Linked DNA regions of Homo sapiens: all the other regions are linked to region 1. The links come from fine-mapping of genetic effects on gene expression. A gene starts in region 1. Each other region holds a variant in brackets. All regions are shown on one strand. Distances are from middle to middle. Region 1 holds the start of OR52N4 (olfactory receptor family 52 subfamily N member 4). Region 2 has its middle 4.7 kb from the start of OR52N1. Region 3 has its middle 5.5 kb from the start of OR56B1.

Evidence for each region. PIP is the estimated chance that this variant, and not a neighbour inherited with it, causes the effect.
Region 2: its variant is the best candidate, but not a certain one, in a credible set for the expression of OR52N4 in blood mononuclear cells (TOPMed, PIP 0.90).
Region 3: its variant is the best candidate, but not a certain one, in a credible set for the expression of OR52N4 in whole blood (TOPMed, PIP 0.65).

What each region holds. Positions count from the first base shown.
Region 1 is chr11:5,750,109-5,758,302 of GRCh38, reverse strand. It overlaps OR52N4 (olfactory receptor family 52 subfamily N member 4), which reads right to left and starts at 4,060. Exons shown (of 2, transcript NM_001005175.5): 1 at 3,998-4,060; 2 at 2,345-3,610. The coding sequence starts at 3,562. The coding sequence ends at 2,597.
Region 2 is chr11:5,791,914-5,800,107 of GRCh38, reverse strand. No RefSeq gene overlaps it. Among named protein-coding and RNA genes, the nearest start is that of OR52N1, 4.7 kb to the right of the region's middle. The variant A/G (reference allele first, on the strand shown) is at 5,139.
Region 3 is chr11:5,726,862-5,735,055 of GRCh38, reverse strand. It overlaps a transcript of OR52N4 not described here and the pseudogene OR52P1. Among named protein-coding and RNA genes, the nearest start is that of OR56B1, 5.5 kb to the left of the region's middle. RefSeq lists a silencer at 691-891. The variant A/G (reference allele first, on the strand shown) is at 3,392.

The DNA.
Region 1 (8,194 bases):
TCTTCTAGGAGTTTTGTGGTTTTAGTTCTTTGGTTTAAGTCTTTGATCCACTTTGAATCTATTTTTGTATGTGGTGTAAGATAAGAGTCCAATTTCATCCTTTTGCATATGGATATTCAGTTTTCCCAAATTCATTTGTTGACAAGAATGTCTTTCCCCATTGTGTTTTCTTGCCACCCTTGTTGAACATCCATTAACCGTATGTGCATGGGTTTATTTCTGAGCTCTCTATTCCATTGGTCTATGTGTCTTAATACTGTGCTGTTTTAATTTATTACACTTATTTATACATACTGTTTTAATTGTTGTCGTTTTATAATATGTTTTTAAATAATGAGGTGTGAGGCCTTCAACTTTGTTCTTTCTTAAGATTGTTTTGGTTATTTATAGTCCTTTGTGGTTCCACATGAATATTAGCACTGCTTTTTTATTTCTATAAAAATTTTCATTGGGAATTAAATAAGGATTGCACTAAGTTCATAGTTACCTCATGCAGTACGAGAATTTTAACACTAGCAAGTCTTCTAAAATGTGAACATAAAATATCTTTCCATTTATTTGCATCTTCTTTAAAAAAAAGTTTTGTAGTTTTCAGTTTATAAGTGTTTGCCTTCTTGGTTAAATTTATTCCAAAGTGTTATATTCTTTTTAATATTATTACTGTAAAAAAGATTGTTTTCTTAATTTCCATTTCACATTGTTCAAGATAGTGTATGGAAGCACAGGTGATTTTTGTGTGTTGTGAAGTTAGTAGATGCAAATTTTTTATCAAAACTGTATCTAGCCAACTTAACAATTTTGAAATAAGTAATATACATTACATTGACAAGTATAAAATATAAATACATGTTCCAAGATATTTAAGATAAATACATCTTAAAGTATTGAGTGAGAAATTAGCAGATTAAGTTGTTTAGCACAATAAAATGTATTTAAATTAAAACACATAAAATCACTGAATAATAACATCTATTTTTAAGGAAACTAAAATATAACAAACGTTATGCCAAAATCACTGGGAGATAAACTGGAGGAGCAGGACATGGAAAATTGGAGTAGACATGGAGAATGCAGGGGGAAAAAGGAGATATTGACCTGTCTAAGAAAGATAGTATGCCATGAAGAATAAGTACGTGGAAAACAGTTCTCTGAACCTTAGCTTCCTTTGGGGAATCATTAGTTTTATAGCCAATACTTAAGACCATGACACTAAAGGAGAACACCTAGGAAGAGAATGTAGAAAACAAATCAAAGTTAAACAAAGTGTATTACATAAATGAAATATGTAGTGTCTCTGAAGTAAATAAAAATGATATAGTGTTTCAAGATATTGGAAATACTGAGTTGAAATCAATATTCCTGAGAGAGTGTGAGATGAGCAAAGAAGGAGGACTATTTAGTTTGTTAACATGGAAAAGCATTGGTGAAGTTGACAATAGCAATTTCAGATAACAACTGGGATAAGAGAAAGACAAACTAGGAGAAGAGTGATGTCAGGTTGAGGAAGTAAAGAGAATACTGATGACTTTTAGCTTTAGGGTAGCAAATATTGAAATAGGGCGATACATGGAGGATAATAATATTTTAGTGGGTACTGCTGTTTGGCCAGCTTGTAAAATGCAACATAGTCAAGAAGGATTCACTAAGTGAATAAATGCAATTTGACGACTATAGTTAACTAAATTTCAGGGAAGTACATGTTTTCTTGTCAGTTGGACACAGAAAAATAACAGTAAAAGTTGAGTTTATATTCCTTATATAATTGGCTTAGTTTATGAGACATTAATATGAAAATACTATGTTCTATAGTTTCTCACTTGTTTTTTAATTTAGATAAATCTTAAATATTAGAAATATATACCTAATTTTCCTTATTAGATTCACAATTAGAGATAAAATGAAACAAGTAGATTTTGATCCCCTTTCATACAGGTCTTAGAAAAAAATTATACTGTTTTTTATTTTTGGTTAAGATCTCTACCTCTCTTTCCAGGCTCTGTGCTTTTTAAAAAGCCCCTTTAAAGAAAACGAAATATCCAATTATTCTGTTGTGAAATAATTATGTGACCTATTCAGCCTAATAATATTTTAGCTAGATGCTTAGAGACTTAAAACTCATTTTAGACTTTATGGCATGCACTCTAGATTCTCCTTCAGGAAAATGTCATTGAAGAAACAGGTTTTTGGTAGTTATGAGAAATATATAGCACATGTTTTCTAGACAAAAGTAATAACTGGCTATTAATCTGAAATATTAATCTGAAAATTGTGATCATTGAAAAGAAGACTCACATCATCTCCTTCTACTTAGATTTGTCTTTTCATAAAAAATGGACTCATTAGGTTTTGTCGAATAAAATATGGTTTAATTATTAGACTGGTCCTTCACATGAGTGAGAAGGTAAAAAATTTATAGAAATGTTGGTGGGCCTTCCAATGATGTTGAGATTCCCAAGGTACTTATTGAGAATGCACCAGTTAACAAACTCCATTTTGTGATCAATACAGTGCTTCCAGAAAGATTTTATGAACTCCTGCATAAGAGGCAAATAGAAGTAATTCTTTCCTTCTCTTCTCACTCCTGGCAAGTGTTCATTCACATGCTGTAGGATTTGGTATCCTTAGAACCTGAAAGGATCCTTATGACACAGTCTCGTATCTGTTTGGTTTTCACCCCATAGACAATAGGGTTCATAGTGGGTGGTAGGAGCAGATAAATATTGGCTACAATGATGTGGCAAGAAGGGGGGATTATGTGTTCCCCAAAGCGGTGGGAAAAGAAGGAGAAGAAAGCTGGAGTATAGGAGAAAACAATGGCACAAATGTGGGCAGTGCAGGTATTAAAGGCCTTCTGCCGAGCATCTGCTGAGGAGAGGCTGACCACTGCCCGGAGAATCATGGTATAGGAGTTGGTGATACACAGTATGTCAAAGCCCCAAATCAGGAGGGCAACCATCAGACCATAGATGGCATTGACCTTGACATTACCACAGGACAATTTGGCTACAGACATGTGGTCACAGTAGGTATGGGGAAGTATATTGCCTCTGCAGTAGGGCAGGAGCTTGGTGAGGAAAGTAAAGGGAATAATGAGTAATACCCCTCTCAGGAAGGTGGCAGTCCCAACCTTTGCAATTACAGGATTGGTGAGGATAGTTGAATAGCGTAAGGGGTAGCAGATGGCCACATAGCGATCCAGGGCCATAAGCATAAGCACCCCAGACTCCATCCCTGTGAAGGTGTGGGTGAAGAACATCTGGACAAGGCATTCATCAAATCCAATGTCCTTGAGATGAAACCAGAAGATGCAGAGGGCTTTAGGGATTGTACTAGAGCACATAACAAGGTCAGTAAAGGAAAGCATGGCCAAGAAGTAGTACATGGGTTTGTGCAGGGCATCCTCATAGTGAATGAGGTAGAGGAGTCCACAATTCCCTACCATAGCCACAACATACATAGAGCAGAATGGGAAGGAAATCCAGAGTTGTGTGTCTTCCAGTCCTGGGACTCCATTCAGAATAAATGAAGCTGGTATTAGGTCTGTTTTATTCAGTGTTAGCATGATAAGTCTGGTAGGTTATGAAATAGCTCAAAATTTGTCTGGGCTTTCCTAGAGTTAAAAAAAAAAACAAGAGAAAATATAGGTTATTTTTACTGTCTCCCTCTCCCCCAACTTTTAAAAATTCCATAATGCATTTTAATGGTCCAACAACCAAATTTCTGAGTGCCAAGAAATAATTTTGTTTGTCTGTTTAGTTTTATTGATTGATTAATTAATTGATTCAGTAAAAAATTCTTATTGAGCAGTCTAAGTTTTCAACACAGATGCCAATCAAACATCAATTATTTTATAAAAAGACATATTCCCAATCTCATAGATTTATAATCAAGTATAATTCTGACTTTTCAAATGGTATTTTTATTAGAATATCTTACTTAACTATAACTATACTCATCTCAATATAGATATAATTTTAAAGAAGAGTCATTTGATTACCTCACTGATGATCTGAGAGATGAGATGTTGACTTTTTAATTTTTATTCTTAATGACTGACTGATATTTATTCTTGGGTACTCAGGCACTGTTCAAAGAATTTTGAAATTTTAATTAAATTATTACTCAATGAAGCTTGGGGTCTCAAAAATTAGTAAATTTATTGGGTGTCTATACTCAATAATAATTTAATTGTATATTTTAAAATAACTAAAATAATATAATTGGGTTGTCTGTAACACAAAGGATAAATGTTTGAGATGATGGATACCCCTATTTACTTTACTGGGATTTTTTTTTTTTTTTTTTTTTTTTTTTGAGGCAGAGTCTTGCTTTGTTGCCCAGGCTGGAGTGCAGTGGCGCAATCTTGGCTGCAACCTCCACCTCCCGGATTCAAGCAATTCTCCTGTCTTAGCCTCCCGAGTAGCTGCGACTACAGGCACATGCCACCACGCCCAGCTAATTTTTGTATTTTTAGCAGAGATGGGGTTTCACTATATTGGTCAGGTTGGTCTCCAACTCCTGACCTCAGGTAATCCACCCACATCAGGCTCCCAAAGTGCTGGGATTACAGGCATGAGCCACTGTGCCCGGCCCTTTAAAAGGGATTATTACACATTGTATGCTTCTATCAAAATATCTCATACACCCATAAATATATACACCTACTATGTGCCCACAAAAATTTAAAATTAAAAAAGTCAATGAAGTTTTGATTCAATTTTTTCACTTTTCAAGATATCTTTCTTGTTCTTTATGTATCTAGTCAACGCAAACTAGAAGATATCCAAATGCATACATACAGAAAATATATAAAGTACTTCAACAACATCAGTAAGAAAAAGTTGCAGGAAGAAACATACACTTCAAAAGAGAAATAAAATTGCCAATGAACAGGTAAATAGGCACAAACTTTTATATTAATCAGAAAAATAAGTAAAAATTGTATCTCTCATGACAAAGCACCTTTTTTTGGTATGTAGTGACATACCAAACAGGACAGCTAAAATGAAAAGAACTAAAAATACCAAGCATTGGCAAAGATGTAGAACAACTGGAACTCTCATTTACTGCTGGTAGACATGTAAATTAGAACAACTCTTTATTAGATATCTCATAATGATAAACATACACATGACCACCATTGCCATTTCCAACAAAACTATGTATATATATTTACTAGAATACATCAATTAGAATGCTTATTGAAACATGATTTGTAGTATAGCCTAAAACTGGAAAAAACCTAAATGTTCATCAACATCAAATGGGTAAATAAATTTTGGTACATTCCCACAATGAAATACCACGTAACAATAAGAATAAACAATCTATGACTATATGCATAATATAGACGAATCTCACAATATGTGTTAATTTTTTTTAGAAAGACTTAAAATAGATGTAACATCTTGTGATCTTTAAATGAAATACAAAAACGGATCAAATTATTCTGTGCTATTAGAAATAGAAAAATCTTTTTAAAAAGTGAGAGAGAGTGATAACTGAAAGGCAGTATGTGGTAGAAGGGTCCTGTTAGTTGCTGGTCATATTCCCTTACTTGATTTGGTTGTGAGATATACAAGATTCAGGTTGTAAAAATCAATCAACATGTAATTGGATTAATTGTAAAATTGCATATGTATGTTAGAATTTATAATAACAAAAATTAAATTGCCAAGAGGATTAAAGGACGTAATATGTTAAAACATGCTACCACATTTTAAGTGCTCAATACCCATATTTGTATTTTCTACTCAGGCTGGCAGCCATTTTGGCAATGCTTACAAAAATTAACACCATAGGAATCATGAGTGCCACCAAATGAACTCTCTTTTGTGCCCCATCAGAGGAGGTATTCATCCTAACCTCCATTAATAAAATACACTGTTTTAAGATTAGCATCTGATAGGAAGTACAGTCACATGTTCTGCCTTATTGGGTAAGATGAAGAGGACAGATCAGATTTATCAAAAGGCAACTTGTTTTGAAAATAGTAGAAAAACACAGGTTAAACTTGTTAATAGGCATGCTCCTCAAAGATATGTACTCAAGTCATTACAAAATGTCAGAGTTATACTGGGTGTCATAGGAGCACCTGTGTGTCTAACCTAGCCTCAGGAGATGCTCCTAGAGAAGAGGACAGATGCTTCCAGACCTGGAGCATGATTAGAATTCTGACAGGTCAAAGTGGTAGGAACAGCATTTTCTTCTGTTGCTGTTTGCTGTTTCCTACTCATATCGCACTGACATTCTCAGCTTTGTGATAGGCAAACCTCTATCTCCTTGGTGCTCCCTTTGCCCACTCCCCTCAAATGTAGCTAATCCCTATACATTCTTCAAGCAGAACCATCATCAGGAGGTCTCAAATGTCCTTTGGACATGATAGCGACCCATCCTTTAAATTATTTTAAGATAATGTAGCTACCAATAGCCTTGACTAGGGGTAAGAAATTGATTTGTTCAAACAATTATTCTCTTTAATAATATTTCCCTCATGATATTATGAAAATCAACTTATATTTAGGAATTCTCCAAAATTCAGTGAAATCACCGATGTAAGGACAGTGTCTGGTAAAGCATCCTCAGAGCCGAGCAAATCAAATCTCTCATATTAGATACTCAATAAATGTCAATTTTAAAATAAATAAACAAATAAGTAAATGAAAAAGTGAATGACTCACCCGAAACACTTTATTTTGATAATTATTAAATTATAATCTAAGTATTATTAGATTGGTGCAAACATAATTGCGGTTTTTACCATTAAAAGTAATGGCAAAGCCACAATTCCTTTTGCACCAACCTAATATTACTTGGAATGTATAAAAGAAACCACTAGAAGGAAAAAAAAGAGAAAGTTTTACTTAAGATTACTAGAAAAGCTAAACAACATAAGGCATCTCTCTCATAAAGTAGAGAAACAGAGAATACAAAGTGGAAAAAAAAAGATGACAAAGGCAGAACAAACATTGGTTTTGGATATAAAAATAATTTAAACTTCCCATCAAGTTGAAATAATTCCAACTAATTTTTAAAAATTATATATGCAGTATAAGATTTCATCAGAATGAAAATTATACACAAAGGTTTAAAAATATATACAAACATAATATTTTTAGATAAACAGTATACCTCATACTTAGGATATACTAATACTAGAAAAAAGAATTCAAAGCTAAAACACTCAAGTCAAGATCACTTTGAGAAGACAAAACGCTTAGCATTGTGTAATTAAAGGTAATTGTACCAAATTGTTTTTTTTCCAAGTTTGATAAGGTTTTTCTATAACACAAATAACGAAAAGCACTTAAATTCACATTCTCACTTTGTTGATATGGAGGGACAATGTTAATATGAGGACCTCCCAAAGTTACACTTACATTACATAGCAGCTTATAAACTCATTTTTAAATTTTTAATTAAGGTAAGTGAATGGTTCAAAAATTGAAATTTTAGCTTTGGAATTTTCAGAAGTATGTTAATTATTATTTTGTAAAAGCATAAAAGATAGTCTTCAATACATGAAATGTTTTTCTATGAACATCAAAATTACAGGATTCTGCCTTTCAGACAGAATTTATAAACTATGAATTTATATTTTATATTTGTAGTCACTATTATATTTTTCAGATTTTTTACATATACCTCATTTTTCAGATGTTTTACAATATATTATTAAGCAAAATAACTGACAGTGACAGTGGCAATAATCCATTTATAAAACTACTTTTTCAATAATTTATAAAAATTTAGTATAAACTATTCAATAGTGTCACGATTCTTTTCTCCATCTCACTTTAATATATTGAACAGTGTCTTATTAAATGTGATGCTCAGTGCTTGTTTTGGGCTATACATTGCTTTGTAAATAGCAGCTCAGGATGCACTTTTGCAGCTTTTCTTGGAGTTAAAGTGACCATTTCAAGTAATGGAAAATGCTATTTTTAATGTCTTAATGAATTATGTGTGGAAAGAACAATTACCTGGGTGGAGAAAAATATACTTGTAGATCTGTATTGAACCTGCACATATCCAAGTATGTGTTCATGGTTCCACTGCATGTGAAATAAGTATCCATGTGTTAGAAGTAGGTAGAGAAATTAGGGGAAGCATAAATATCTCCTAAACCGAAAATAGAATAATTTGCTTCTGAGATTACATGCACACTTGTATCTAAATACTAGATAAATATTTT
Region 2 (8,194 bases), 42 kb before region 1:
GGCTTGGTTTTCTACTGGAAACTCTGTTTATATGTGTCTGCTTACATTCCTGGGCCATTTAGTAATGCTTGACTTTGCAACCTCAACCAATTTCCAAATTATAAACTCTATTTAAGTAACATTGATTTTCTTAATTCACTACAAACTATCCCTTCTTTCAAGAAATACTTTGAGATGTGTCCACTGGGTTATAGTTAATCAAATTATGTCAGCACCTACCAATTATGCACTTCTATTATGATTCAGCTTGATCTATATACAAGTGTAAACCTGGCAGGTCTGGATTTTCCAAGTCAGAAAAATCAAGGACAGAGATGGGAAGGGCCAAAAAGGTACATAATAAGTTACAATTTATAAATCATGGCCATGTGTATTTTGTATTCGTCTCTTTTTGTATTCTTTCAGGTTTCTTGATGGTAAGCATGAAATATTTTTGAAATGTTTGCATTTAGCTAATAACATTATTAAGCTCTACGTAATTTTCATGCTTTTTGTTAACTCTCCTCAAATCTCTATGTTGATAAGCATGATATATATAAGCATGATACATATGATAAATCCATGATATATATCACTCTTTAAGTGTGCTTACATATACTATTAATATACAGTACATGTATTACCTATGATCATAATTTTATACCTTCTTTTGATGTATCATTTTTAGCCCCCAAATAACTATAGACAATTATATTGGGTAGGATAAAATCTTTACTAATTTTTTAGTCCAGTTTTTGAGAATGGTTAGCTTTCCATCTTTCTTCTGAAGTCTGAAACATGAATCTAACCTTGTAAGCTTTTCTGATTAAAGTGAGACTCCATAGTCTTACCTTTTGTTTCTTTCCTTCTTTCTTTCTTTCTTTCATTCTTTTTAAAAATATTTCCCCAGTTATTGGTTGCTTTAGATTACCAAATTGAATTATTCATTTTTCCATATCATTGCAGTTTAACAAATTATTTTATATTATCTTCTGTTATATGTTAATCTCCTTCTTCAAAGTTCTAATTTTGATTGCTTCTCTCTCTCTCTCTCTTTCTCTGTGTGTGTGTGTGTGTGTGTGTGTGTGTGTGTGTGTGTCCGTCTGTCTCTATCGCTGTGATGGGATTTAACCTAGAGTTTTCTACAGAGTTTTTTTTAACCATTAATCAGTGGAAATCTTTTCAAGTGTTGCTGTATAAATAATCTCAGTATATAAAAAAGATAAAAGTAAAACCTTCTAGAAAACAATAAAAAATAGAACTGATTATTTTTAAAGCATTTTGCTTTAAGGCAAAATACTTTTAATGTTAAGTAAAGTAAACCATGTAATTTTTCAGCACAACCTGGAACATAATAAGAAAAATACGTAATACTATCACAATTATTGTTAGTATTATTATCATTATATCGCTCTACAAAATAAGTGAAAATAAAATTATATCCAGCCATCCCTTAAAACCTCCTGGATACTTCCGTCTTACTCAGAGCAAACACCAACATCCTTATATTTGTTTACAAAATCCTACACAATTAGGGCTCTTTTAAATATCTGAATGTATCTCCCAGTATTCTAATTCTCATTCTCTCAGTCCATCCATACCTACTGAAGTTTTCTCAAGCTTAACAAACATGTACAATTAAAGATATTTCTACTTGCAGTATCAATGCCTGCTATGTTCATCCCAAGCTGTATAATGAACGGATGGATGAATAAATTCTAAAATCTCCTTTTTGGATGGTTCTCCTGCTTATACATAAATACCTTAACAAATTAGTGTCACAATAAACTTTGAAAAATAAAAACGTATTAGGAAGACATGATTTCAAGTTTCAAGATGTCCTTAATCTTATCTACAAAAATTAAAAATTAATGAAATCGGAGATATTTAGAATTGGGAAGAGTACATGTAGTAGATGCATGCAAATTGTCTTTTGTATTATTTTGCATATCCCCAAAATAAACATATTATAAATAGAAAAATGTTACAGAAATGTAAATTTGGCTTTGAGGAATGTTGCCCATTCACACAGATAAAATTTTCTAATAAGATAATGGGATCACTGCCATCTGAGGTATCAAGCAGTGGGAAAACGGCATATGTCATTAATGTCGTCAAGAACTTGGGCTACATGATCACTAGAATTTCTTCCAAGTGTTCTTTTTTTTAACTTTTAAGTTCAGGGATACAAGTGCAGGTTTGTTCCATAGTTAAATTTTTGTCATGGGGGTTTGTTGTGGAGATTATTTCATCACTCAGGTAATAAGTCTAGTACCCATTAGTTATTTTTTCTGATCTTTTCCGTCTTCCCACCCTCCATCCTAACTCTTACACTAATTCATTTTCAATGGTAGAGATGTTACTGCTTCCTGAGGAATACTCTTCCATCTATGGAGGGCAGAGAAGTTTTTCTATTATTGTATAGAAATATGCTTGCCTATATCTCTTTGGTCCTTGTCACATCAGCCTCATGGAATCCCCTTCCTTCAGGACCTAAACTACATTTAATTTTCTCCCTCTTCTCCCTCCTCAAGGCAATTTGCAAATTCCTTGGTTTCAAAATTCTAAAGAGTGAAGTAATTCAGAACTTCCTTATTCAACTGCTCTCTCATTTAAATCCCTCCTATATAGTAGCAATTTTGTGCATTTTATATATTTGTTTTCTTTTTATCTGAACCATTTTCATCCAAACTCACCCTGGTGCCAGATGTTTTTAAATTCCCATTCATGACTGATATTACTTAGAAATAATTGCACAATATTGATGAGGAACCCTATGTAACAAACTTAATATCTTCTCTGGGGATTTTCCAAGCCAAGGTAAAAAAATTCTTTGGGGCTTTACAGATAGATGTCCCATAGGTCTCTGAAAAGGAGGTGAATTTACCTTTGTTGAAAATAGATCTATAATTAGAATATGTCTATGCCTGACAGAAAAAAATCTCAAATTTTATTATTGATGGGACATGTGAAGTGTCTAGCATCTATTGAATCATAAACCTGGAATTTTACCTGACTCCCTAGGGCAGTTCCATTCCAGTTTCATAACATTTTATATATTTATTCATGTGCCATGTGGGTATTTTAAAGCTTTCTCAAAAATATTGAGTAAACAATTTCAGAATGTTTTATGCTAGGGGCTCATTAAAATATATATTCTGCAATAAGGCTGAGTTATGTCTTTATTTGAAAGGTTAACACTGTTAAATGCACTGTCTCTCCATCACTGTTCCCCTTTACTTCAGTAGAAATATAGCATTCTTTTCTGTTGCAATCCCCGTTAGTACATCTTGATCAAGTTTAAGGAAACATCAAAGGCTGGGATTGAAATTATCCTCAAAGTAGACAGATGTCTGGAAAGGAATCAAAGAACATCGTGACCACAATTTAATACCTTGGGTTTGTAGAATGAATGCAGTCTATGGAGAGGAGAAAACGGTAAACAGTAATATGATGTAATGGCACATCTTTCTTCTAGCACAAGCAGCTACGATGGACAGAATCCCCACAAATGTAGGTCCTTTTTTCTTTTTCAGTGAGCCAGCTCGCTTACCGAAACACATAAAATAAGCTCTATGCCATAGAGCTTCAGCCCAGAGTGAGTCTTCAATTATTAACAATATGGTGGTGTGTAGCTTTATTCCAGAGCAGATAGCTAATAAATGAAAAACATAGATGTCAGCTTTCCTTTTAAAACTTGCTGAGTTACAATATTAATAGCATTTTTAAAATAATACTTAAATAAATAGTAAGCTATCAGATGCTAGGTAATGCTTCAAGTCCTAGACTCTGCTACAAAGTTCCTCAAGTCAGAAAATCTTTGAAAAATATCCTTACTTCGGTTTTTTTTTTTGCTTTTTGTTTGTTTTCTGAATTAAAACTGTATTAAGCAGGTATATCTGCTTATAAATGCTATGCATATATAATAATATACTTATGAATAGGTGTGAGAAATTAAAATGAAGTCTATTTATCTGGTTATAATACAGGCATACCTTAGACATAGCACAGATTTGGTTTCAGACCACTGCAATAACGTGAGTCACATGAATTTTGGGTTTCTCAGTGCACATAAAATGTATGTTTACACTATACCATGGTCTATTAAGTATACAATAGCATTATGCCTAAAAAATATATAGACCTTTTTAAAAATATGCTATTGCTAAAAAACGCTAGCGATTATCTGAGCCTTCCGTGAGCCATAATCTTTTTGCTGGTGGAGAGTCTTTGACTGCTGTTGACTACTTAGGGTGGTGGTTGCTGAAGTTTGGAGTGATTGTGGCAATTTCTTAAAATAGGACAATAAATGTTGCCCCATTGATTGACTTTTACTTTCATGAAAGATTTGCCTGTGGTATGTAATGCTATTTGATAGCATTTTACCCACAGTGAAGCAGCTTTCAGAGTTAATCCTCTCAAACCATACTACTGCTTTCTCAACTAAATCCAGGTAATATTCAAAATCCTTTGTTGTCATTTCAACGATGTTCACAACATCTTCACCAAGAGTAGATTCCATCTCAAGGAACCATTTTCTTTGCTCATCCACAAAAATCAACTCCACATTATTCATGTTTTATCATGAGATTGCAGCAATTCAGTCACATTATCAGGTTTCGTTTTCAATTCTATTTCTTTTGCTATTTACATCACATCTTTAGTGATTTCCTCCAGTAAAGTCTTGACTCCATCGAAGCCATTTATAAGGGTTAGAACTAACTTATTTCTAACCCCTATTAATGTTGATATTTTGACCTCATCCCATGAATTATAAATGTTGTTAATGGTATCTAATATGGTGAATCCTTTCTAGAAGGTTTTCAATTGACTTTACACATGCACATCAGAACAATTACCATCTATGGCAGCTATAGTCTTACAAAATGTATTTCTTAAATAAATAAGACTTGAAAGTCACAATTGCTTCTTGTTCCATGTGCTGCAGAATGGATGTTGTATGAGCAGCCTTGAAAATAAATTAATCTCCCTGTACATTTCCATTACAGCTCTTGAGTTGCCAGGCACATTGTCAATGAGCAGGAATATTTTGAAAGGAATCCATTTTTCTTGAGCAGTAGGTTTCAACAGTGGGCTTAAAATATTCAATAAACCATGCTCTAAACGTATGTACTGTCATCCAGGCTTTGATGTTCTAT[A/G]TAGAGAGCAAAGACAACATAGAGTTAGAATAATTATTAAGGGCCCTAGGATTTGGGGATTGGTAAATGAGCATTGGTTTCAACTTAAAGTCACCAGCTGCATTAGCCCCTAACAAGATAGTCAGCCTGTTCTTTGAAGTTTTGAAGACAGACATTGACTTATCCTCTCTATGATGACATGCTCTTCCAAAAGAAGGCTGTTTCAGCCAGACACGGTGGCTCATGCCTGTAATCCCAGCATTTTGGGAGGCCAAGGTGAGTGGATCACTTGCGGTCAGGAGTTTGAGACCAGTCTAGCCAACATGGTGAAACCCTGTCTCTATTAAAAACACAAAAAGTTAGCCAGACGTGGCAAGGGAGCCTGTAATCCTAGCTACTTGGGAGGCTGAGGCAGGAGAATCACTTGAACCGGGGAGGCAGAGGTTGCAGTGAGCCAAGATCGGGCCACTGCCCTCCAGCCTGGGTGACAATGGTGAAACTCTGTCTCAAAATAAATAAATAAATAAATAAATAAATATATATATATATATATATATATATATAGAGAGAGAGAGAGAGAGAGAGAGAGAGAGAGAGAGAAGGCTGTTTCATCTACATTGAAAATCTGTTGTTTAGTGAATCCATTTTTATCAATGATCGTGGGATCTTCTGGATAACTTGCTGCAGGTTCTACATCAACACTTGCACTTGCGTGTTATGGAGATGGCTTCTTTCCCTCATGAACCAACTTCTGCTAACTTAAACTTTTCTTCTGCAACATCCTTACATTTATCAGGCTTAAAAGAATTAAAATAGTTGATGCCTTGCTCTAGATTAGGTTTTGGCTTAAGGGAATATCGTGGCTGGTTTGGTCTAGACCACTTAAACTTTCTTTATATCAGCCATTAGGCTGTTTTGCTTTCTTGTCATTTATGTGTTCATTGCAGTATCCCTTTAATTTCCTTCAATAACTTTTCTTTTGCATTCACAACTTGGATAACTGTTTGGCATAAGAGGACTGGCTTTTGGTCTATCTCAGCTTTTGTCATGCCTTTCTTACTAAGTTTAATCATTTATATATATATTTTTTAATTTAAATTGAGAGGTATGTGACTCTTCCTTTCACTATACACTTAGTGACCATTGCAGGGTCATTTATTGGCCTAATTTCAATATTGTTGTGCCTGAAGGAATAGGGGGGCCCAAGAAGAGGGAGAGAGACAGGAGAGTGGCTGGCCAGTGTAGCAATGAGAATACATACAACATTTATAAATTAAGTTTGCCATCCTATGAGTGCAGTTTGTGGAATCTCAAATTGATCTATAGGTTCAATATTGTCTTCACAAAAATCCAAGACAGCTTTTTGTAGAAATTACACAATTAATTCTAAATTATCTATGGAAATGCAAAGGACAAAGGATATCCAAAGAATCTTTTTAAAGAAGGACCTAATTGACAGTGCTTACACTAATTTAAAAATGTATTATAATGCTATGACAATCAATAAAATATAGTAACAGTATAAAATTAGAAATATAAGTACCACCAAATCTAAAATAAAAGTTAAAAAAGAGAAATTGAAGATGACATAAATAAATGGAATGATATCTCGTGTTCATGGACTGGAAGAATTAATATTCTTAAAATGTCTATAAAGCCCAAAGCAATCTGCAGATTCAATGCAATCTCTATAAAAATTCCAATGTCATTCTTCACAGAAATGGAAAAAAATCTTAAAATTTCTATGGAACTATAAAAGACCTTAATTAGTCAAAGCAATATTGACCAAAAAGAATAAAGCTGGAGACACCACACTACAGAATTTCAAAATATATTGCAAAGCTATAGTAATCAGAACAGCATGGTACTGGCATAAAAACAGATACATTGACCAATGGAATGGGCTAGAGATCCCAGAAGCAAACCACACATTTAAAAAGAAAAGGACCTGTCTTCAATAAATGGTATTGGGAAAAATTGATATCCACATACAGAAAATATAAATGAACCCTTAGCTTGTCTCTTATACAAGAATCAACTCAAAATAAATTAAAGATTCAAATATAAAACTTGAAACATTAAATTAATAAAAGAAAACATAGGAGAAAAGCTCCATGACATTGGTTTGGGCAAAGATTTAATGACTGTGACCCCAAAAGCACCAGGCAACAAAAGCAAAAATAAACAATTGAGATTGGATTATATTAAAATGCTTCTGTATAGCCAAAAATACCAATAGAGAGATAACTTCTCAGATTGAAAAAAAATTTGCAAATCATATGCTGGATAAGGACTAATATCCAAAATAAACAAGGAATTCAAACTACTCAATTGCCAAAAAAAAAACCCTATAAAAAGTAGAGAAAGGACTTGAATAAAAATGTCTCAAAAGAAGACATACAAGTGGCCAAAAAGTATGTGAGGAAATGCTCAACATCACTAATCTTTAGAGAACTGCAAATTAAAACCATAATAAGACATTACCTCACACCTGTTACATTGGCTATTATCAAAAGGATGAAAGATAAGAGCTGTTGATGAAAATGTTGAGAAAAGTGAACCATTATACACTCTTGTTGGGAATTTAAATTAGTATAGTTCTTTTAGAAAACAGTATAGAGGTTCCTCAAAAAATCAAACACGGAATTACCATATGATCCAGCAGTCTCACTGGGTATATGCTCAAAGAAATTGAAATCAATATGTTAATGAGATGTCTGCAACCTCGTGTTCATTGCAGTATTATTTGCAATAGTCAAAATGTGTCCATCAATGAATGAATGGGTTTAAAAATATGGAATATGTACACAATGGAATACTATTTGGCCTTAAAAAATTCAGAAAATTCTGTCACAAGCAACAACATAGATGAACCTAGAGGGCATTGTTAAGTGAAATATATTATTTTTTATTATGGCATAGCTATGCTTCTGCACTGTACCATTAGTCTAGGTCTTTATATAATCATTTGGAACTAAGTTTCATTACCCTCAGTAGGCATCATTATACCCAGTCCTTAGTAATGAAGCAAAGATATTCATTATTGCTACTCTTGGTAAACATTGCATAGAAGGAAG
Region 3 (8,194 bases), 23 kb after region 1:
TGGAAGAAAATAAAATTCTTTTGTTGTATCAATTCTTATTAAAAACTAAATGTATTTCCTTTCAGAGGTTTCTTACTGCCTGTATGTTTGAATAAACATATACTCCCAAATGATGGAGTAAATCATCCTTCTTTAATGGTGAATGTAATTTGATAAAGAGTAAAATTATCTAAATGTATCTACAGAAAATTTCAATGACTAAAGAGCACAAGCAATAATGGAGGTAAAGCTAGTTTGACTTTGAGCTTTTAGAGGAGAATTCTGAAGGGGTTCAACACAATAGTTTTATCCTGGATGCGTGGAAGTATGTAACCCATTTGATGTACAAGGCCTGGCATTTTTACTTAATACTCATTTATTACTTTACATCCTAATATCACATAACATTTTATCTTTGATGTTTTCTCTATTAAAATTTTTTTCTGATTTGTATATGTGTGATACAATTAAGAGAAGTAGTATGTTTGAGCTCACAGAAAAAGAATTGTTTTTAATTTTTTTTACAATTATATTCTAGCATGACATAGAATACGATTCTGCTATATAAAACAGTTAATATATTAACCCTGAAGATAATCTGGCAGTGTTGTTTTTTGATTACAGACAAGGTAACTTCTAGTGCACCATGTGAGCCTTAATATTTTCTAATTCTGACTTCAACCTTTTTTGGAAAGGCCCTCTAATCCTCTATATGCTACTAAAACAGAGAGAAATGTCAATCTTTTTGCAGAATGTTGACAAAACAACATAATGTTTAGGATAAGCCATTGAACTCTCTGGAATTTAGCCAAAGTGACCATGAGAAGATTTTATCACTTACCTTGCTTATGAACACAGACTCACAGTCTGGGATCCTAGGCGTGGCAGAAGTTTTCTACTGGGCAAAGACAGAACTTTATGAGAAAGATGCTTTAACACAAGATAAAAATGTGTTGTCAGCTAAGATGTGGCACAGAAATTATAAACTTCTGAAATTTATGGAGAGTAGTAAAGCAGCTCAGTGACCTAAGCATAATAGATCTCATTTGCAGACATGATGAAAGACCTATAGAGAAAGCTGAATTCCTAGGATGTTAAATCCCACTAGAATAGAAAGCAGATTAACTCAAAAACATGTATCCTATTAATGTAACCTAAGAATTTACATGAATAGAAGAATATCTTCATTTATTAAATCAAAATGGACCTATAAAGGTGAGAAATTTTAGAGTGTTTGAATGGTTTTTAAGCACACAAACTCTGGGTGTTCTAAATTCTGTGGCTAGGAGATTTATTTAAACATTTTTAAAGGAGAAAGCTTTCATTCAAAAATACATATTTAGTTCTGTCTGTGTTTGAAAAACATGTTAGGCATAAAGTGATCAATAGAACAGTCATCGTTCCTGTTCTCATTGAAATTGTGGTCTAGTTGAGGTGGGGGGAGAGAATAATAACAACAAAATCAAGCAAATATATAATAATAGACTGGGATTAGTGCTTTAAAGCAAAAGTACCAAGTGATAAGAGTTCACATGAAGAAAAAAATAATCTCTTGTTGTCAGAGAGGATATCCTGAAAAAATGTTTGTTCTGAGGGCAATTGTTTGAGTAGAAGATAACTATGGTGTGTGTGTTGGGGTGGGGATAAAAAAGACTTTTTATCCAGGAATCTTTGAATGTTAAAATGAGAGGGATCAAGGCATAGTCAAGGTAACAACAGAGTGTTACAACAATGTGTCTGGTAATCTCAGTGTAACAACAAGGTAACCTCAAGGTGACAACAATGTGTCTGGAAACCTCAAGGTGTGGTGGAACATGGGAGGTGATGTGAGATGGTGCTGTTGAGGTCATAGTGGTCAGATAATTTTAAGCAAATTTATGCTAAAGCAATATGGAGCCACTGAAAAGGTTTAGGATAATTTAGGCATGGCAGCAATGTGAAGACCAGATTGTACATGGCAAGAATAAATATAAGTAAGTTGGATGAGCACTGACAACAGTACTTCAAGGGTGAGACAGCTTTATTTTAAGCTATGAAGATATAGAGAAATGGATGGATATAGAAGTTATACTGGATGTAAATTTTATAATATTTATGACCCCAAAATAACTCTAAGTTTCTCATACATGCACTGGAATGGAATATGTCATTCATGTACCTAAGGATGACTGGAGAAGAACCAGATTATAAGGGAAGAGAATGAGTTCAAATGAGGTCATGACCAATATGAGGTGCCTACCTTTGAAGCATCCAAGAGATTATTATTTAGCAAAGAGAGGAAAAAGTAGTTCCAGAGAGCAAAGGAACAATTTGAGAAAAACTGGAGTGACTAGTATTTTATTTGGAAATTACTGGAATATTTGAATTAATGCTATTAGCACAAATAGATGTTTTAGCAAGTGAGGATAGTGACAGAAAGAAGGTGGTCTAGCATGTAGTTTCTAGAAACTCATCATGATGTCTAGGTAAATGTTGAGAAAGAAAAAGAGACCGAAAATAACCTATATAGGAAAAGACAGATTGATTTTTAAAGAAGAAGGCAAAGAAATTGATTCATAATTTTACTGTACTGACAGATCTAATGAAACATAGTTTAAAGTAATATTGATGGATTCAGTCTCTTGGAGGTTACAAATGACTTTTTGAAAAGAACTGTCTATTTTTGGAGTGCATAAGAAAAAGTCATATTGGAGTGGGCTAAAGAGTAAGTTAAAGGCTAGGAAATAGAAAAATTTATGCACATAACATTTTAAAGAAGTTTGTACAAACAAGAAAATGTAGGGCAGAAGTTGGAAGTTTAGAGTTGGAAGTTGGGGTTTAGAGTAATTTGTAGTAGAAAGTAGAATGGTGGTTACCAGATGCTGAAAAGGATAAAAGGTGGGGAACTGGGGGATGCGGAGATGTTGACCAAAGTGTATAAAGGTTCAGTTAGACAGGAAGAGTAAATTTTCAAGAACTATTGTACAACGTGGTGACCACAGTCAATAGTAATATATGGTATGTTTCAAAATTGCGAAAGAATAAATGTAAAATGTTCTTACTGCAAAAAAAATAACTTTATGAGGTGATAGTTATGTTAATTAGACTGATATAATCATTCCACAAAGTATACATATATCACAATATCACATTGCATCCCTTATATATATTAGTCAATTAAAAATGAAAATATACATCAAAAATAAAAATTAAATTTTAAAAAGCATTTCTTGTTTTAAAATCGGGAAAAATAATGCATCTTTGGAGGTTGGTATGAACTATTTGGTAGAGAGAAAAATAGATTGTTGATAAGTCAGAGAGAATTGGATAAATAAGAGCATATGGTTGCTGAAAAAAGGAGGGGTGATGAGAGCCACTTTCCATGGCTCACATGGCAGGGACCTACCTCAAATTGGAAGAATGGTACCTGTCA[A/G]TTAACCTTAGAAAATGTGGTTAAATGTTTGCCTATGTAGGTAGGTGTGATATAATACATTTGTTATGTTTAGTTAGAGGAAATTAAGAGCTACCATTTGGTAATGTTTTAGGGAAATGTTTGGACCAAGAACAGGAAGGAAGCTGCAGATTAATGAGAAACTTATTTTTAATGTAGAGAAAAGGCTTACAATTCTGAGACGTACACAACAATTCTGGAGGTGCCAGAAAACCCTTTACTGTATTACATCAAATAATAATTCGATATTATCACAATTCTTGCCTCCCCTGCTGGTTTCTCTGCTTTCTTCCAGTAAACTTCTTGAACATACAAAATGCTTAAAGAAGCTCATTTACAATGAATGAGAAGTGGATAAGATGTAGGAACTTATCCGACCCTCAGCAACTTAGAGCGCTTAGACTGCAGAATATGAAGTAATAGAGCAGTAATTCCTCAATGTCCTTTTCATAATCTGCCAAATATGTGAGTCCATTAGTCCAGTGCTCACTTAGAAAATGATTCTTCCTGAAAGTTTTTAGTTTTCATTGCTCTTCAAATTAGACACTATGACTAAATTCTCTATTAACTGAACAGTATACACGAATGGAAGGGATGAGGCTGTACCTTTTGACCATCCTACATTGCTTACTCTTACAAGGAACAGATTCCAAATACTAATATAATTTGAAGTCTGCTTATAGTCAAGGTGAGTTCAAGATGATATCATCAGAAGCAAGAAATAATGACAGTGGGAAGGAATTAGTTAAGCACACCATCGGTCATAATTGAAAGAAACAAAAAGGCAAGAGAAGTTTCCTAATGCAATGAAGAGCACAGTGTTTTCTGCATAGACATCTAGTTGCTGTCTCCTGCAGGAAGCCCTCTGCCTTGACACTGTTCTGGATTTTCAGCTCTTCCTTTCATGGTCCCCATTGCTATGGACTTAGATTGGAATGAGTGAGAAGTTAGCCAAAGATGGATCTCTGAGAAACACCAACATTTAAAAGTCAGGTTCATTAAAAATAAAATAAGGGGAAGAGGATGAAAAACATTAGAGACATGAAAGAAAAGCTGGGATTGTGTGGGATCATAGAAATCACAGTGGATAGATTTTGGAGAAGTAAGTCATAATATAACACAATTTAAGGTAGTTCTGTTAAAAATGGTTACTGCTGGCCGGGCGTGGTGGCTCACGCCTGTAATCCCAGCACTTTGGGAGGCTGAGGCGGGCGGATCACGAGGTCAGAAGATCGAGACCATCCTGGCTAACACAGTGAAACCCCATCTCTACAAAAAATACAAAAAATTAGCCAGGCATGGTGGCGGGCACCTGTAGTCCCAGCTACTCAGGAGGCTGAGGCAGGAGAATGGCATGAACCCGGGAGGCAGAGCTGGTAGTGAGCTGAGATTGTGCCACTGCACTCCATCCTGGGCACCAGAGTGAGACTCCATCTCAAAAAAAAAAAAAAAAAAAATGGTTACTGCTGGCTTTGATGACAGGTATTTCTCTGGAAACATCAACTTCTGGTTGAAGTTAGATTGTAATATAAGAAAAGAATAGGACATAAGAATGCAGCAATAATTAGTTCCAAAAATATTTTTCATGAACTTTCATTTAAAAAAAATCACTAAGGTTATGAGAAATTTTTCTATGGGGCAAATGTGCCAGTAAATTCAAATGGGTTATAAACAGGAGACATCCAAGAAGTAACTGATAGTCTGGGATCCCAAAGGCATATTATAAGAGGCTTTCTTGAGAGGAAAAAGAAATTGGCAATAAATAAATATAGCAAGAAAGGAGGAAATAATGGCTATACACATCAAAAGTTTATATGAGGATTATAATTGGAGACAGTTTATTCCTTGTCATTTCATTTTTTATGGAATTGAAATCAATGTAATATTACAAACATGAGTGGCCGGAGGTGTATAAGGGGTTGATCATGATATAAACTTATTATTGTAAATCATAAAAGGTGAACACATAGACATCTAGCATTGAGATTCACATTAAAGTGAGAAGTTATGAACAAGCAGTGCTTATAAGTATATTGCTTACAATACACTTTAGAAACGTTCTACAAAGTATAGAAACCCATGATACAGTATAAGATTGTTACACAGTTGGGGTTGTAGGTTTCTGTGCTAGAAAAATGGTCAATTTGGAGAACACAAAAGTAATTTTGTTGATGAACTGTAGTGTTAGAATTGTATATAAATCTTAAAAATCTATTAAGAATATCTCGGCCGGGCACGGTGGCTCACGCCTGTAATCCCAGCACTTTGGGAGGCTGAGGCAGGCGGATCACAAGGTCAGGAGATCGAGACCATCCTGGCTAACACGGTGAAACCCCGTCTCTACTAAAAAATACAAAAAATTAGCCGGGTGTGTTGGCGGGTGCCTGTAGTCCTAGCTACTCGGGAGGCTGAGGCAGGAGAATGGTGTGAGCCTGGGAGGCGGAGCTGGTAGTGAGCTGAGATCATGCCACTGCACTCCAGCCTGGGTGACAGAGCGAGACTCTGCCTCAAAAAAAAAAAAAAAAAAAAAAATCTCAATTTAAGGATTAGATACATGGACACAGGAAGGGGAACATCACACACCGGGGTCTGTTGTGGGGTGGGGGTGAGGGGAGGGATGGCATTAGGAGATATACCTAATGTAAAGGACGAGTTAATGGGTGCAGCACACCAACATGGCTCATGTATACATATGTAACAAACCTGCACGTTGTGCACATGTACCCTAGAACTTAAAGTATAATAAAAAAAATTGAGGGTTAGAATAAAAAAATTAAAACCAGTGACAGCCCATATACTAGTACTCTCCCTATAAAAAGTGATTATTTTTTCTCTGAAAAATGGACAGTGCTCAGCCTACTTCACTGAGTTTCACTATTTGTGCACTGTTTATCCCAACATATTTGAAGTGTCCCAATAAAACACTTATATTCCTGACAGAGACAGAGCTTTGAAGAGCTGGGCATTGGCTTTCTACCTCAGGACTGATACTTTCCCAGGACAGGAGTGTCTGTGAACTTCCACAAGGGAGTTTTGTGTTCCCTCCACCTAACAGGGTAGGATGGCATATAAGCGGATGACAAGCAAAAAATGTGTACTATTGGCGAACTCAAAATTGAAAATGCTAATTTGTTAAGAGAATGTGTTTGATAAATTGTCTGAAGCTATTTGGTGAGGAGTGGACAGAAAGCTCAGTATGTACAGTAACTGGTTTCCAATCTTAGTTTCATGGATATAGTTAGGAACTTTCCATCACCACATGGAGTTACTAGAATCAAGCTTAATCTTCTTTTCATTATAAATAAATAGAAGAATTAATAAATACAGACTAATTTCATAATTAAGAATTCCCATTCTGAGTGGTTTGGGTAAGTGGCCATTTCTTATAGGTTCAGGAGATAAGTCAATGACTTCTGAAAGGTCCTCCCATTGTATGTATGTACAAGAATAATTGGAAACTGCTTGTGAGGGATGATATCCAAGGTCATTCAGACTTAGGTTAGTTCCTGAGAGGCTGGAGACAGGAGTGTACCTGTGAGATAAATAGAAAATGTCTAGAAATGAAGAGTTATTCCTAACCTCTCTTGTGCCCTCATTCATAGAAGTCCTAAAGGATTCTAGTTTTCACAGCTTTGTTCTGCCACTAAGTAACATTGTGGATGCTGGTGGATCTTTTTCTCCTCTTGGTTTGAAGCTCTAATGGAGAAATACAGGGTTTATGGAAAAGCATGATAAATTTTTTGCGGCTTTAACTACTTTAACTGTGGCTATATTGTCCTATCTTCTGATTCTTGCAGCTGGTAAGATAGCTGGTATATCCTAAGGTATGAAATTAGAAATCCATGCCTGGAATATTGGAAGGGTGCCAGGAAATGAGAAGAGATCTTATGGCTATGCAGGGACTCTTCTAAACTGCAGCAGGGTAGAAACCCTCCAGAACACAGTGGGTTGTTTTCAATATCTGCACGTTACCCAGGTTGCAAGAATCTTCCCATGTTTACACTTCTCTGAAAGGAAAGAAAGAATGCCCTTCTCTGTGATTTATCATTCTTGGAAATGGTCTAGAAAGTTCTGCAGAAGACATTATCCCCCTCTTAAAAGCTCTTTCTGGTCTCACATACTGAGGATTATCTTGAAAAGGTTTTTTTTTTATTTTGGATTAAGTCCCTCTATACTCCAGGGTCACTCAGATGCCTTGATGCCCATTTCCTGCCCACTTTGAAACACCCTGACAACTCTTTTACGGATCTGTTTGGTCTTAACTCCATATACCACAGGATTAAGAGCAGGTGGCAAAAGCAGATAAACATTGGCCAAAAGAATGTGAATATGGACTGGAACGTGATGGCCAAAGCGGTGTGTAAAAAAGGAGAAGAGGGCTGGTGTATAAGAGATGAGGATGACACAGACATGGGAACCACAGGTCCCTAGGGCCTTGGACCGAGCTTCATGGGATGAGAGGCGAAGGACAGCTTGTGCAATTAGGGCATAGGAGAGACCAATGCAAAACAAGTCAACCCCAGTGACCAACAGTGCAGCTGTCAGCCCATACACACGGTTAGGCCTGGTGTCTCCACAGGCCAGCTTCACCACAGCCATGTACAGTACGTGTGTAGGATCACATGGCTTTGGCAGAAGTTCAAACGCCCAATAAAGAAGGGACATGGGAGCATGAGCAGGGAGCCTCGCACTACAGCTGCCACCCCTATGTGGGCAATGATGGTGTCAGTGAGGATTGTGGCATAGCGGAGTGGGTGGCAGATGGCCACGTAGCGATCAAAGGCC